Regions from separate parts of the Homo sapiens genome. Here region 2 is linked to region 1. Evidence: fine-mapped expression QTL. Tissue or cell type: whole blood. Region 1 holds a variant in brackets; the other region holds the start of a gene. All regions are shown on one strand. Distances are from middle to middle.

Region 1 (8,103 bases):
TTTTTTCTTTTTTGGTAGAGATGAGGACTCACTATAATGCCCAGGTTGGTCTCAAATTCCTGGCCTGAAGCAATCACCATGCCTGGCATTTTTTTCTTTTTTCCTTTTGGTAGAGATGAGGACTCACTCTATTGCCCAGGTTAGTCTCAAACTCCTGGCCTGAAGCAATCCTCCCACCGCCTCCCGAAGAGCTGGGATTACAGGTATAAGCCAGCATGCCCACCCAACAATTTTCAATGGTGATATAGTTTGGATATATGTCCCCTCCTCTGTCTCTGGTCCTTCTCCCCTCCTCTGCTTCTTCTCTGGCCATGTGAGGTGCCTGCTCCCACTTTGTCTTACCATGATTGTAAGCTTCCTGAGGCCCTCACCAGAAGCAGATGCTGGTGCTACACTTCTTGTATGGTCTGCAAAACTGTGAGCCAAAATAAACTTCTTTTCTTTATAACTTACCCAGCGCCTCAAGTATTCCTTTACAGCAACACAAAATGGACTAATACAAATGGCTATATAATACTCTATTCAGATAGCATCTAATCTATTTAATAGTTATTTTTCAGCATTTGCTATTAAAATTATGCATATACTAACTTAAATACTATACTATACTAACCTCAATGCCAAACTTCAATTACTTACTTATTTTAAACTAATTATCTATTGATTTTAAAAATCACCTAAAAATTTTAATTGGTTTATGACAGCAAAATATAGTTGACCCTTGAACAACACGGGTTTGAACTGCATGGGTCCACTTAAATACAAATTTTCTTTCATTTCTGCCACCCCTGAGACAACAAGACCAACCCTTCCTCTTGCTCTTCTTCCTTAGGCTACTCAATATGAAGACAGGGAAGATACTTTTATGATTATCTACTTCCACTTAATAGTATGTATGTTTTCTCTCCCTTATGGCTTGCTTAGTAACATTTTCTTTTCTCTAGCTTACTTTTAGTGTAAGAATACAGTATATAATACATAGACAAAATATGTGTTAACTCTTTATGTTATTGGTAAGGCTTCAAGTCAACAGTAGGCTATTAGTAAAGTTTTTGGGAGTCCAGAGTTATATGTGGATATTCAACTGTGTGGGGGCCGATGCCCATAACCCCCACATTGCTCAAGGGTCAGCTGTATACTATAAAGTTTGTTTTTTCCCCCAACCATTTCTGCTTCAAATCACAAGCACACTTCCTAAAATACCAGGGTCAATCTAATTCTAGTTCTGAGAATTATCTTGAGAAAAAGTTATTTTGTCTCTGTCATCTTTAGCTGCACACTATGGATGGCATGTAAAACATGTAAAAAGTTGTAGATTCTGCCAAACAACTTAAATAATGTTGATCATTTAAAAGCATTAAAAAATTCCTACTCATCCTAATTGTAGATGAATAAAGGAATTCCTTAGAAATGAATGGTATGCGTATAAAGCAGAATTTATTAATCCTAAATTCTTTTGTTCTGTTTTAAATTCTTTATTAGTCACAGTCTATTTAACATCATGAATGGTTAATAAAGTATTTACTCATATAACTAGTGGTATATATTTCCCTGAACAGTTCAAGAACCTCTGCTAAAATTCAGACCTCAATCATTAGAGAATACAAACATTAACTTAACCAAAGGTCTAAATGATGATACTCAGCACTGTATTTAAAAGCTTTTCTTCTTTAGAAACAATGAAATAAAATATATTCCAGATAATGGAAGTCTGGGGGAAATTAAGAGAATGGGAAGTGGCCGAAAGGTGAAAATGAACAGAAAGTTCAGCTACACACATACCACAAATTCTTCATCCACTTTATTTAATGTTAATTCTGCATCATCTTCTGCAACGCTTTCTTCTTCTAATTCTTCTACTGGGTATATTGGCCTAAAATAATAAGATTAAACATGAGGTGATAATTTTAATATTTAGTAAGACAAAAAAATCATAATGCAAATATCATGTCCTCTATGCCAGGTTTTGTCCTTTTTCATTCCGCTTCCATAATCACTGTTAAATGTTTCATGTATTTTTCCTAAAACTTTCTATGTAAAAAGCAAAAGTGTTTATCTCCAAATTTATAAAAAATGAGATGATACTATGCATGGTGTTATCCAACTTAATGCTTCTCACTAATACACCATATTTAAATACATATGTATTTCTCATTATTTTTTACATACAAGCACTGTATTTCATTGAACAATCAATACCATAATTAATGTAATTGGCAGCCTATGACTGAACATAGAGGTTTCTAATTATTTTGCTGGACAATATTGCAAAGATCATCTTTGTACATTTATCATTACACATACCATTTAGAATAAATTTGTTCAAGTGAAATGGCAGGGTAAACAACTTTGTACAGTATTGTTTTGCTATATACTGCCAAAATTGGCTTCCAAAATGTTACCCTAATTTAGACTCCAAACAATACTGAAGGAGAGTAACTCCATCTCCATATATTCACCAATATGATATATAATACAAACTTTAATTTTAGCCAATCAACCAAGTGAAAAAAAATCTCATTCTTGTTTTAACTGCATTTCTTTAGCATGAAAGTGATTGAATATCTTGTCATATTTTAATTGCTTATTTGCACTTCTTTTTAGGTGAAATGTCTATTTATACCATTTACTTTTTGGCTTTTTGTATATTAAGAAAATTAATGTTTTGCCTAACCTCTCAAAAATTGTTCCCCTAGTGTATTACTTATAATCTTGGCTATTCAAGATTGTTATAGTTCTTCTTAGATAGAGTTGGTAACCTTTTCCTGCACAGACCCTAGCTTTAACATCATATATTAGAGGCTTTCTGTCATACCACAACCTCTATACTCCTCTGGTCTTTTAATACTTCTATAGTTTTACTTTTCATATTTACATCTTTGATCAATCTGAAGTTTATTTTAACATAGGTAATAAGAAGGAGTCCAGCTTTCTTCTTATTTCCAAAATCTAATTAGTGATCCTAACATTAAACTTTGAAAAAAATCATTTATTCATCAAGATTAATGACACATTTCCTATATTAAAAGTACTTAAATGTATTTGGGCTTATTTATGAAAACATATTTTTTTTCCTTTTTTTAATCCAGTAACAAAGCTAGAGAGAAAACTTGTATTAAAAACTTGTACCTGGCTGGGTGTGATGGCTCACATCTATAATCCCAGCACTTTGGGAGGCCAAGGCAGGTGGACTGTCTGAGACCAGGAGTTTGAGACCAGCCTGGGCAACATGGTGAAACCCTGTCTTGACAAAAAAAATAAAAAATTAGCTGGGAGTGGTGGTGTGCACCTGTAGTCCCAGCTATGCGGGAGGCTGAGGTGGGAGGATCGCTTGAGCCCGGCAGGCAGAGGTTCACTCCAGCCTGGGCGACAGAGTGAGACCCTGTCTTAAAAACGAAAACCCATGCCTCAATCATGTTAAAAAAATACAAAAATCAACATTTACTAATATGCAAAATACTATGAACTAAATCAATCATCTTAAATAATAAATTTCCTAATTTTTCATTAATTA[G/T]AATTCGAAAATATCTCAAAGGCAATGTTCTTCTAGGATTCATTTTGACATTTAGATATATAAAAAATTCATCTATATGTAACGTCTATCTCATTTACATGTTACAGAGCTGACATATTCTCTAATGTTGACTACTTTTCAGCTCCCTCCTTTTATTCCTCATTTAAACATAGTCCTTATAAGTTATCCAAGTCACAGTCTCTTCAATAAATGGTGCTAAAAAACAAAAAAAGAAAAATAAATAGTACTGGGGAAACTGGATATCCACATGCAAAAGAATGAAACTAGACCCTTACCTCTAACCACTTATAAAAACCAACTCAAAATGGATTAAAGACTTAAATATACAATCTGAAACTGAAACTACTAGAGGAAATGTGGAAGAAAACACTTCATGACATTGGTCTGGGCAAGAATTTTTTGGATAAGACCTCAAAAGCACAGGCAACAAAAGCAAAAATAAACAAATGCGATTACATCAAACTTAAGGAAACAATCAAAAGAGTGAAGAGACAACCCACAGAATGGGAGAAAATATTTGCAAACTACCCATCTGACAAGAACTTAACATCCAGTATGTATAAGAAATTCAAGCAACTCAATAGCAAAACAACAACAAAAAAACTAGTCTAATTTTTAAAATGAGCAAAAGATCTTAATAGACATTTCTCAAAAAATACATAGAAACGGCCAACAGATATATGCAAAAATGCTTGACATCACTAATCATCAGGGAAACGCAAATCAAAACCACGATATCATCTCACCCCAGTTAGAATGGCTATTACCCAACCCCTCGCCCCCCAAAATAACAAAGGCTGCTGAGGATATGGAGAAGGGGTAACCCTTGAACACTATTGGTAGGTATGTAAATTATTAGTACAGACACTATAGCGAACACTATGGAGGTGCCTCAAAAAACTAAAAATAGCACTACTCTATTATCCAACAATCCCACTACTGATGATATATCCAAAAGAAATGTAATCGGTATGTTAGAGATATCTGCACTCCCATGTTTATTGCAGCACTATTCACAATACTCAAGATACGGAATCTGCCTAAGTATCCATCAAAGGTTGAATAGAAAATGTGGTATATTTTCACAGTGGAATACCATTCAACCATAAAAGAGAATGCAATTCTGTCATTTGTAGCAACCTGTATAAGCATGGAGGACACTATGTCAAGTGAAATAAGCCAGGCACAGAAAGACAAATATCATAGAAGTAGAGAGTATAATAGTGGTTACCATAGGATGGGAAGGGTAGGGGGAAGGGAGAATAGGGAGAAGTTGGTCAAAGTGGGTGAGTACAAAGTTACAGTTAGGAGGAATAAGTTCTAGTGTTCAATGCACAGCAGGGTGACTACAGTTCACAATATTATATATTAATTAACAATAATATATATTTGAAAATAGCTCATAGAGATTTGGAATTTTCTTGCCACAATAAAATGATAAACGTTTGAAATGATGAATATGTTAATTTCACTAACTTGATCATTGTATATTGTACACATGTATCGAAACATCACATTGTACTCCAAAATTTGCAGTTATGTGCCAATTAAAACTAAAAAATAAATTATCCAACTTACAATACAGAGGCCAGGAATAAGATGTGTTGAGAAACAAAGGAAGTGCAAAATAGAATAGTGGTTGAGATATTACACCATAGCTTCTGGTGAATTTAGAATATATTAGTCTATTAATTTAGCAGTTTTTTAAAATGCTAAATACAGCAGCACATCTCATAACTTATCTTCTCTTGAAATTTAATAAAGTATTATGGACCATGTAGCCATTCTTTATATTGTACTAAATAATAATGTTTGGATTGAAGCATATGAAATTGCCATTTTTTAGTTTAAAAATAGATGAATATGAGTAATTTCATATGGCTCATCCCAATGATAACCTAATTCAAGGAAGTTATTAAACTTAATAGGGAGATTATATCTAAAAGAATATAATTGAATATACATTAAAATGTTATTAACAGGGAATAATATATATATATGTGTGTGTGTGTATATAATCTTTCTACCGAAGTTAGTTCTAATTAAAAAAAAAAAAACACTGCTTACTCGCATTTTACCTGAATAGTGCCTTCTACATTCTAACCTATTAGTAATCCCAAACTGCAAAGCATAAAATTTATGTTTTCTAATTATAATCTCTATAAATTGAGTTTCCAAATGTTCTATTTCATCTATATGCTCAATATCTATTAAACATCTAAGATACACCAAGCATTATGCTAACAGAGTACTTGTGAAGATTTCATGATTTCTAGCAAGAATGTCAGAATAGTAAAGAACAATTTTATACCATAGGATAAATATAATATAATAATAGAAATAAAGCACTGTCAGGTTGGACACAAAAGCAATGAACAATGTCTAGGAGAGTGTCAGGTAGTTTCTTCAGTATTATTCTTGCCCAGTAACTACTAGCAAAGGAGAAAATCCCACTTAAAGTACTGTATTAATTTCCATTTTTCCTTAAATCTGTAGCTATCAGTTCCCTCTGTGTATATACTATGTTTGTGTGTGTGAACATATGTACAAGAGACTTTAAAAAAAAAGTCCAGTATTTACAAAGATATGTAGTCACAGTTAAACCTTTAATAATTACATATTTGAACAGGAAAACGGCATAATAATATGTAACACATTACTTCAGAATTAGTTTTGAAGACGTGAGACATTCTAATTTTGTCTATACTGGCTTTTCTTAATTATCTGTGGCATTTTCAATTTAGAATAGTCAAAAAGAATAATTCTTTTATGTTCAATTGAACAGCTCTGTACCCTCAGAGGCAAATGCTATGCCCATAAAATTACTATCATCAGGGTGGGTAATTTTTACCTTTTCCAGGTGAAACCAATATATTTCAATGCTTCTTCAGCGAAGCAATCAAGAACATAGCATACATGTTCTCCATAACCTGACTTTAATTTTGAAGGAGGAAAATCTGCAGTTCTTCCCTGAAAAACAAAAGAAAAAACAGGGTATTATTTGTTAGTTATACTCCAAATGTCAAATATTTTAAGCAAAGAACTGCTGAATGGATGTATCACTTTTCTTTCAAATGATTTACAATAACTGTAATTACACTGCTTCATACAAATCCATTTCAAGTCTTTGTAACCCATTGATACATAAAAATACTCAAAGACTTTTATTGTTAAAAGTATCAAATTAAAAAGCAATAACATCATAGCAGCAGAACAAATTATTGATCTTATTAGAGTGAAAAGAAACCAGTAAAACTATTTAAACAACTATGTTTAAGGACAGAGTGATTCACTTGTCAAAAATTAATAACATTTGTGCCAAAAATATCTTACTGCCTGCCCAGGAAAAGTCAGAAATGAAAAAGTACAACTGCTGTCATGGTCTTAAGTACAAGTTCCCTTTCAGAATATGAAGTGTTTTGGCTTTGTAGGATTTTTTTTTAATTATCATTTTTTAGATCAAGAATTAACCACCCCAAAATTTACCTCTCAGATATATCAAGATTTTTTTAAAAAAATATTACTTTGGACTAATAAAGAGTATATACTGAACATTTTCAGAAGTGACATTAACATTATAATGTAAACTATTTTAAGGAGGTTTTACCTAAAAATAAATTCATATTTACAGAGGAGTCATCTAAATGGCTAGCATTTGTTATTAAATTACCAGTATTAAAATTCATAACTTGAGAACAAGGAAAAAGAAGGGTCGTTTACACTTACAAATGACCGAAGCTCGGATAGTATGTTAGATATTGTTGCATTAGGGTCATCATATTCTTGAGGCTGCTCAAAGGGACGTCCCGCTTTATTAATCAACCAAGCAGCAAGAGTACAAAACATGTAGAACTGTTCGCCAGGGTTGGTAGGCAGTGCAAAATAGTGTCTGTTTCAAAACAAGGAGGAATGGGGGCGGATGTGAAATAATGCAAATAAGTCTATAATAACTAATAGGGCCGAATTCACAATTGTCCAACAATCTTTCTTCCCCCCAAATGGCCATCAAAAGACCTCGATAATTCACCCTTTGAAGTTTCCAGTAATCCACAGCACTCACATTGAAGTTTTTAAATCAGCAGGATTAGGGCAATTACTACTGTACCCAAAATATTAGATCAAAGACCTTACACCCAGGAAATGTAGTGCATGTTAGAGCACAGAGCATGTAGAATTTTTGCCAAAATGATTTAAGTGTCAGTAATAATATGTAAGTACCTTATGAATGAAAATGGTAATCTGGAAGAACCTCAGAGTTTAAAAAAGACCTCAACGATTACTCATTATGCATTTTTACTGTTTCTAACCTATCACCTATGGTGAACATTTGTTTCTATGTTGGCTGCATATTCAATCACCTGAGGAGCTAATAAAAATACTGGTACTTGACCAAACATTGCTTCTTCCCTCATGAATGAATTAAATCAGAACTTCAGTGAAAGTAGGCCCAGTATGGGGTATATTTCAAAAGATTTCTACATGTTTATAAGGTGTAGTCAGGATTAAGAACCTGTGAATGTCACATCACCAGTCAAACATCTGTGGGCTCTTGCTTAATCCCCTAGTCT
Region 2 (8,111 bases), 92 kb before region 1:
TGGGCAACCTAGCAAAACCCCATCTGTACAAAAATTTAAAAAATTAGCCAAGCATGGTGGCAAGTGCCTGTAGTCCCAACTACTCAGGTGGCTGAGGTGGGAGGATCACCCGAGCCTGGGAAGGTCCAGGCTGCAGTGAGCCATGATCACACACTGTACTCCAGGCTGGGTGACAGGCTTAAACATTTTTGAAACCCCATCTCAAAAAAATAAAAAATAAGAATAGTTACAGTTAGATAAGCTCTAGTGTTCCATTGCACAGTAGGATGACTATCGTTAATAAAAATTTATTGTGTTTTTCAAAGCAGCTAGAAGAGAGGAATTTGAATGTTCTCAACACAAATGATAAATGTTTGAGATGATGGATATGCTAAATACACTTATTTGATCATTAAACATCGTATACAGGTATGGAAATATCACTTGTACCCCATATGTATATATAATTATTATGTATCAATTAAAAATAAAAGAATAAAATTATATTTCAAAAATACTTGGTTACAAGAGAAGATCTATCATAAAATGAATAAAGTTTAATAAATAAAGGACCTGAGTTACAGGTCCTTTCCCATGCACGGCCCCTGTGAGAGCCTGGGTTGCTAAGAGTGATAGAGTTCCAGGTGGAGAGAGGAAGCTGGGTTACAATCAGGAAACATTTCTATGTCAGCATTTTGGGTAAATTGCTTAAAGGGATCTCAGAAGAAAAGGAACTAATTCTCCAGCACTCCTGTAATTTGTCATGATATAATTTCTCATTCTAAGTAAATATTCGCTTTCATGCCTAATTTTGTATTTGCAATTTTGCATTCTTCTTCTTAAAGAGGGCTCCCATAATTGTATAAGCCTCATGCCTCACAAAACCTGAAGGTGCCTTTGGTGAGGAGGATCATCAGAACACCAGCAGAGTACCTCGACGTGTGAAATCTAGCACTGGATTCCATCCCTGACTTTTCCTAAGAATCACTGTGAATGCTCTGGACAAATTGCTGCTGCGCTGGGTGCTCCCTGTGTCATCACACTTCCTAATTGTACTTCTGGGTCCTCTGAAGCTGTTCCCAGTGCTTAATCGTAAGAAAAGAAGCTCCAAATACTAGTTCAGAAACTCAGGTAGAAAGAGACCTTAAATGTCATGTCCAGCCACTCTTCTGATGCTTGAGTCTTCTCTTCAGGAGGCATCTGGGCCTGGGCTTGGACCCCTTGCCTCAGTCAACCCATTAGAAGTGTCTTTCCTTGTCTTGAGTCAAAACCAGTCCACTGCTACTGGCATTGCTCTATACTTCCAGGCTGTACAGAAGATGTCTAACCTTTCAGATGAGAATGGCAGAGGAAAGCAAGAAGAAAGAAACTTTAATTGTTCCTCAACTTCCCAATTAGGCACACCATTAGGGGTTTTTAATATGGTTCTTGATTTAATCTTCTCATTAACTTTCTGATGTAAGTATTATTATTTTATTCTAGGGTTCCCAGATGTAGCAAATAAAAATAGAGGATATCCAGTTATATCTGAATTTCAGATCAAAACAAATGATTTTTAAATAAAACATACACTCCCAAAAGTGTGAAATTAATTTGTCCTTGGACAAGAGATATGGAAATGTCATGTATTTTACCTGGAAATCCTGTTATTATGCCCATTTTTGGAGCTGAGGAAACTAAAGGTAGGAGCCTAGGTAAGTAGTGGAGCTGGAATCTAAGCCCAGGTCCTTGATTTCAAAGCACAACCCCATGCCCCACAATATCATACACTGATTTAGTATCTGCCTCCTACCTACCCCCAAGAAAAATGTGAAATTAATTTGTCTTTAGAAAGGAGCTACCAAAGCTATAAAAACAAAACAAATGTATTTGCAGCTAAGAGAAGACAATCTCCAGGAAACTACTGCTTCAGTTATTTGACACTGGGCAGAATTTTTGGTGAGAAATCAGCAAGATCATAGCCTGGAGTGAACACTGGAGGCATGAGATGTCCTTGAGAAAGAGGCTAGAACAGAGGGTGGAACGCCCCTTCTATTAAAGCAGTTGTTTTCCAGGGTCTCTGGAAAGCTCCTTCCTTTGTCGTGGCGGTGGTGGGGAAGGGGAGGCTGGGACCCTAATGCATGACTTTCCACCTGGGTGTCACTGGCACCTGATGTCCTAATCATATTTCCCTGTCACCTCTCAGTGCTGATTTACTTTCTCCTCCCATTCTACATGCTGCAGAACTAATTGCCTGCCTAATTGCCAAAACGAATTGCTGTGACATTCATTGTTCATCTGCTCCTTTCTCCGGCTTGAGCTCAGGCAGGTGGCTCCCATGAAGGCAAGGGTGGAATTATTCCTGCTTTAGGGCCAGGATGCTTCAGAGTGATGGCCCAACAATTATCTTCCTCATGGAGGCGGACCAAGGAATCACCTTCCTCATTGAGCAGGGGACAATAATTCTTGGCAGGGGTTCCCCTTCTTCTGCTGTAAGATTGGGTAGCTTTGACAGGTTGTGAGTCAGTTAAATTGTACTTTTCAGGGAGTTCCTCTCTCCCATTTGGAGATTAGGATTAGATTTGTTGGTTAAGAAACTGACCGAGAGAGGAGAGACAGCTCCTTGCTGGCCACATAGCTCATTCATGGTGAAGTTGAATCTGGGGCTCAGATATCCCAATTCATAGCCCAGAATGATTTCTACTGCACCACACCACAACTGTTGCAGTTGCACTAATTACGGTTTTATATTTCCTTATAAACTTTTATTAAACCCCTATCAAATAGTATGTCCTCATTGGTAGCAAGAATAATAAATATTTATTGAGTTGTTATGAATATTAAGCCTACTTTTTTTTCATGTAATCCTGAAAAAAGGCAACATGACAGAGATGCTCTCAGTATCCTTATTTTATATCAGGGAAAGTGGAGGCAGAGGGAGGTTAATAACTTGCCCAGGTCTGACACCAGATCCCATCCTCTTACCCCCACAAGCCCATGTGCAGATTCCTCCTGACAGCTTCTGGATTCTGATACACGAAAGAACTTATGAAGATGACTTGAAGGCTGGAGCTGGCGCAACATGAAACTAATCAACCAGATTATGCAAATTATTATGTAAACTCCTATTATTGAGCCAGGATTCATGACAGCCCCTTTTTTCCAACGCTGCTGAGATAAAAGCAAATGGATTGCAACACTAGCTTGGGATGAATTCAGGGAGCTTGGAAAGAATTCCTGGGATTTTCTGGGCAGTGGAAAAGACAGTGGGTTGGGAGTCAAGAACCTGAAGTTTAGTTCCGGATCTGGCATTAGGTAGCTGCATGGCCCTGGGAGGACCTATGTGCCTCAGTTTCTTCAACTGTGAAACGAGATAAGACTCCATGCTCTGGAAGACCCCTGCCATTCTAGGCATCTCGGATGGCATGTCCAAGATGGAAGCACACAATGGCAGAGGCTTGTAGCGACCTTCAGGACAGCTTTCCAGTAGCTGTAAATAAAAGTCTTATTGTTTGGTTCTTGGTCTTTCCCCCCTCTCAGTGACAGGAAGAATAATAAAAGCAATGGCACTATTGTGTGAAATAAGTGTTTTCTCATCCAAAAGAAAACATGACATATACAATAGCAAACCATTTGCAAGCTGAAAAAGTAATTAATTGTATAATTCACTGAACATGATAGGAAAAGTGAATTATGATAAAGGAGAAGGACTGAGAGTTAACAAATGAAAATTTTATTTAAAAGTTTTAAAATTTTGTTTTTTTTAAAAAAGGAGAGCATTGAAAGGTGATTAATCTACAGAAACAAAGAACTATTTCAAACACATTTAAAAAGGCACAATTAGAAGAATACCGCAAAAATAAAAAGAAAAATTCAGTTTGATCTGAGGGGGAAAAGAAAAAGCTGTTTTCATGAAAAACAGATTTTGAAGTACTTTTGTCATCAGCTTCCTTTCAATTCTTCTGGTTAATTTCATGAAGGCTGTGCGACCTTTCAACTTCCAAATGTTTGCAGGAGGGAAGGGTGGTAACGTGTGAGTGGAAAAACAATTAATTTTCAAGGTATGGGATTTTATAGTAGAGACTTCCTTAGCAGGATGGACCGTGACAGGGTGTTAGTGATGGAGACCTTAGGAGGAGAGGGCAGAAGATATGGGTTTGAGGTCCTGATGTACTCTGCCTGCTGTGTGATCTTGGACAAGTTCCGACCCCTCTCAGGGGTTCAACATCTTCCTACCTACATGAAGTGATGGGATCAAACACCTCTGTGGCCCTCTCTAGTCTATATGTTTGCATTTCTAACTGTAGAGCATGATAAAAAAATAAATCAGAAGTCAGTGATCTTTAGGTTACTAGTCAGGATGAAACTCAAAAGATCTATTTTTAAAATTATGAGTATTGGGTGTGGTGAAAATATTCATATTTGGGGTCAGAGAGTTTTTCTAATAGAATCAATTCTAGAGCATTCAGACTTGCTCTCACCCCAAAGAGGAAGTGAATGAAAGCTCTTCTTTCTCCTCTGCTGCTTTCTTTGTCCATGGGAGTATGCAAATTTTTCTGGCAACACAGAAGACTGAACACAGGAAGCCTGAACCCCGTGAAGCCATAAGGCTTAGCATGGGTGTGGAGGGTGATCAACCCCTCATCTGTCATTCAGAACTCCATGCTGCAACACAGAGGGGAAAAAAAACCTTCTGCTCCCTGTTTCAACCTCAAGGGCAGAGAACACAGGCCGAGTTGCTGTTCTTGTCTCACAATCTGGAGGCCAGAAGTCTGAAATCAAGGTGTCGGCAGGATTGGCTCCTTCTGGGAGCTGCGAGGGAAGTATCTGTTCCAGGCCTCTCTCCTTGGCTTACAGATGGCTGTTGATATGGTTTGGCTGTGTCCTCACCCAAACCCCATCTTGAATTGTAGTTCCCATAATCTCCACGTGTCATGGAAGGGACCCGGGGGAGGTAATTGAATCATGGGGGCAGTTACCTTCACGCTGTTCTCGTGAAAGTGAGTGAGTTCTCAGGAGATCTGATAAGGGGACTTTCCTCATTTTACTCACTCAGTTCTCTTCCTGCCACCACTTGAAGAAGGACGTGTTTGCTTCCCCTTCTGCCGTGATTCTAAGTTTCCTGAGGCCTCCCCAGCCATGCTGAACTGTGAGTTAATTAAACCTCTTGCCTTTATAAATTACCCAGTCTTGGGTATGTCCTTATAGCAGCATGAGAATGGAAATACAGCCATCTTCTCCATGTGTCTCTTTACATTGTCTTCCCTCTGTAAGCGTTCGTTTCTGTTATAAGACACTAGTCTTATTGGATTAGAGACTGTAATGACCTCATTTAAATTTGATTACCTCAGTAAACACACTATCTCCAAATAAGGTCACATTCTGAAATATTCAGGGTTAGGACTCCAGTAATATCTTTTTGTGGGGAGACACACTTCAATCCATAACATACTATAAGAGAAGGGAGCGCTTACCACTGTCCATTACCTGGAACCAGTTCAGACAACCATCATCTTTCTACATGCGATGGAGAAAACAGTTCACCTGGGCATTTTTGCTATGACAGGAGGAAACGTCAATATCAAACCATTGGAGAAGGTAGCTGAGTCATTCATTTGTGGCAGCAACCATCTTTCCTTCCCGCACCCCCTGGCTAGGCTGCTCCATGTTGGGAGGTGGTGTGTTCAGTACAGCCACAGTGAGCTAAGTGAGGGCTTCAGCTGCAGGCTGGAGTGACCCAGGGAGGAACTGCCGCCTATCAAAAGGAAACACCTGCCACAGAAGGTTCACTGAAGCCTGAGAAAATAAACGTCAAGAGCTCTGGGCTGTGCCACCACCAGTCTCCACCACTATTCTGAGGCAGAATGCACCTATTGGCTCACAATGCTGTGAAAGAAAACAAGAAAGTCGTGATGGTGAGCGCTGCCCTGCAGAGATAATGAGCCACTAGAGTAGTTCTGAGGCAGGAGCCAGAGGAGCTGTGACACAGAGGCAGTCAGGGAGTGGGACTGGGGTCACAGGAGGGGCTGGACCCAGTGGTCTAGTGCCTCATCTCATTCCAGATATGTGACCTAAGATCTGCATGTGTGTGCCTGTGCATGTGTGTGCCTATGTGTATGTGGATATGTGGCAACATATATGTGCATGCATGTAAGTGAGTACACATGCATGTGCATGTGGTGGGGTGTGGGTGACTGGATAGAGGGAGCATGGGGAAAGGGAGGGAAAAGAGGGTTAAAACCGTGACAGGATAATAAGCATCTGAAATACTTAACTACAACAAAATGTTCTGAGGCTTTGTACAGCCTTATTTTCCAAACTGCAGGTTGTGGCTCAGCAGTCAGCTGGGAAATCAATTTACCCATGCAGAGATTCTTAACCTGGGTCTGTGGACACTGCCCTTTCCCCACAAGAGGCCCAAGGATAGAATTGTATTTCAATATCATTGATTTCCTTTGTAAGCCTAAGAGTTTTGCTTTATGCATTTAAAAACACTACAAGAAAGGATCCATAGGCTTCATCACATGGGGTAGAAATGGCACGTGCACACATGCATACACACACACACATACACACAAACAGATACACACACACACACAAACACATATACACACACACACAAGGTTAAAAATCTCTAGGTCAAAACCAGCATTTTAAAAAGTTATTAAGATAACTAGATTATAAAGAAATTAAAAAATTTGAGCTATGCATGTAATGAGGGTACTGTTTTGTGAAACTGGTTTTAGATATACAAATACTTGTGTATATAAAATATACATATGTATATGTGTGTACATATTTATGCACACACATTTATTTATTTGTTTATTTTGTGATGGAGTCTCGTTCTGTCACCCAGGCTGGAGTGCAGTGGCATGATCTCAGCTCACTGCAACCTGTCTCCCGGGTTCAAGCAATTCTCCTGCCTCAGCCTCCTAAGTAGCTGGAACTACAGGCATGCCACCATACCCAGCTAATTTTTGTATTTTTAGTAGAGACGGGGTTTCACCATGTTGGCCAGGATGGTCTCGATCTCCTGACCTTGTGATCTGCCCGCCTCAGCCTCCCAAAGTGCTGGGATTACAGGTGTGAGCCACCCTGCCTGGCCATTTATTTTTAACTGTAGGGCATAGGGCAAAAAATTGATAGCTAGTGTTCAATAGCCTACTGGACATTAGGGTAAAAGATTTTTTTAAAAAATTTTTAAAAATTATGAGTGAGGAATGTAGTGGGCCATTTGTGTTTCAGAGTGGAGGGCTCTGCTATTAGGCAGACATTTGACTTTTCACTCGGCACATCCACATTCCAGCCAGTCTCCCAGTGAATGGTGATAAGCTGGCCCTGATCATGCCTGTATGGCTACACCCCTCTCTGCCTTGTTGAGGCCTGAGTTAATTTGAAGTGTTGCAGAGACATGTGTTGATTCCTGTGGCTACAAGGCTCCCGGAAGTGTCAGAGGCAGAGGTATTGTTTCCTGGGAGGGGTGTCTTCCTGTGTACCGCTGGTGTACCACTGGTGTATGCCTGCCCAGAAGTTTGTTCTTTCACACCCACAGGGCCACCTGAAGAAACAGAGATAGGGTCTCCCACGGAATGGGGCAGCAAAAGAAGTAAAGCAAAAGTGAAGAAAAGAGAAATAGGGGGCAGCAAGTGTTCAGGAAAAGGGGGGTCAGATAGGAGAGAGAAGCAAAGAGAAAAATCAAAGTGTATAAAGCAAGTGGCGGGACTCGCTGAGCTGTAGGTGTAGTAAGAAGCTATCACACCAGCCTGTTAGCTCCCTGCAGGATTCACAGCATCAAGGATGGTGAAACCGAAAGAAAGAAAAGGTAGTTCAGCAGGAAAGATCAACAAAGACAAATCCTGGGACGAATCCAAGCTGCTATTAGAATCGAACCAAGCAAAGATATGACCACCTATGTTAGCGACCTGTTGCTTAGTTTATTTTAAATGAAACTCATATTTACTTGATTAATTTAGAAAATCTGAGATTCACTAGAGCAGGAACTTTGCCTTCCTCAGTTCCTAGACCAGTACCAGTTACATGGTGAAGGCTTAATAAATATTTATAAAGGAATGTTAATTAATCAGCTGGTAATTGATATGTAAAATTGCTTGAAATTATAAAATAATAGTGACAACTAAAAGTAATACAGT

Evidence for each region. PIP is the estimated chance that this variant, and not a neighbour inherited with it, causes the effect.
Region 2: it holds the start of LINC01215, and the variant in region 1 is fine-mapped to the expression of LINC01215 in whole blood (INTERVAL, PIP above 0.99).

What each region holds. Positions count from the first base shown.
Region 1 is chr3:108,212,149-108,220,251 of GRCh38, forward strand. It overlaps IFT57 (intraflagellar transport 57), which reads right to left. Exons shown (of 11, transcript NM_018010.4): 2 at 7,262-7,424; 3 at 6,387-6,505; 4 at 1,783-1,873. Among named protein-coding and RNA genes, the nearest start is that of IFT57, 6.2 kb to the right of the region's middle. The variant G/T (reference allele first, on the strand shown) is at 3,515.
Region 2 is chr3:108,120,036-108,128,146 of GRCh38, forward strand. LINC01215 (long intergenic non-protein coding RNA 1215) reads left to right here and starts at 5,029. Exons shown (of 2, transcript NR_110030.1): 1 at 5,029-5,107. LOC105374031 (a long non-coding RNA gene) reads left to right here. Exons shown (of 8, transcript XR_007095997.1): 6 at 309-408; 7 at 825-1,071; 8 at 1,462-3,111. RefSeq lists enhancers at 4,212-4,471, 4,266-4,766, 4,552-4,601, 4,672-4,811, 5,092-5,141 and 2 more.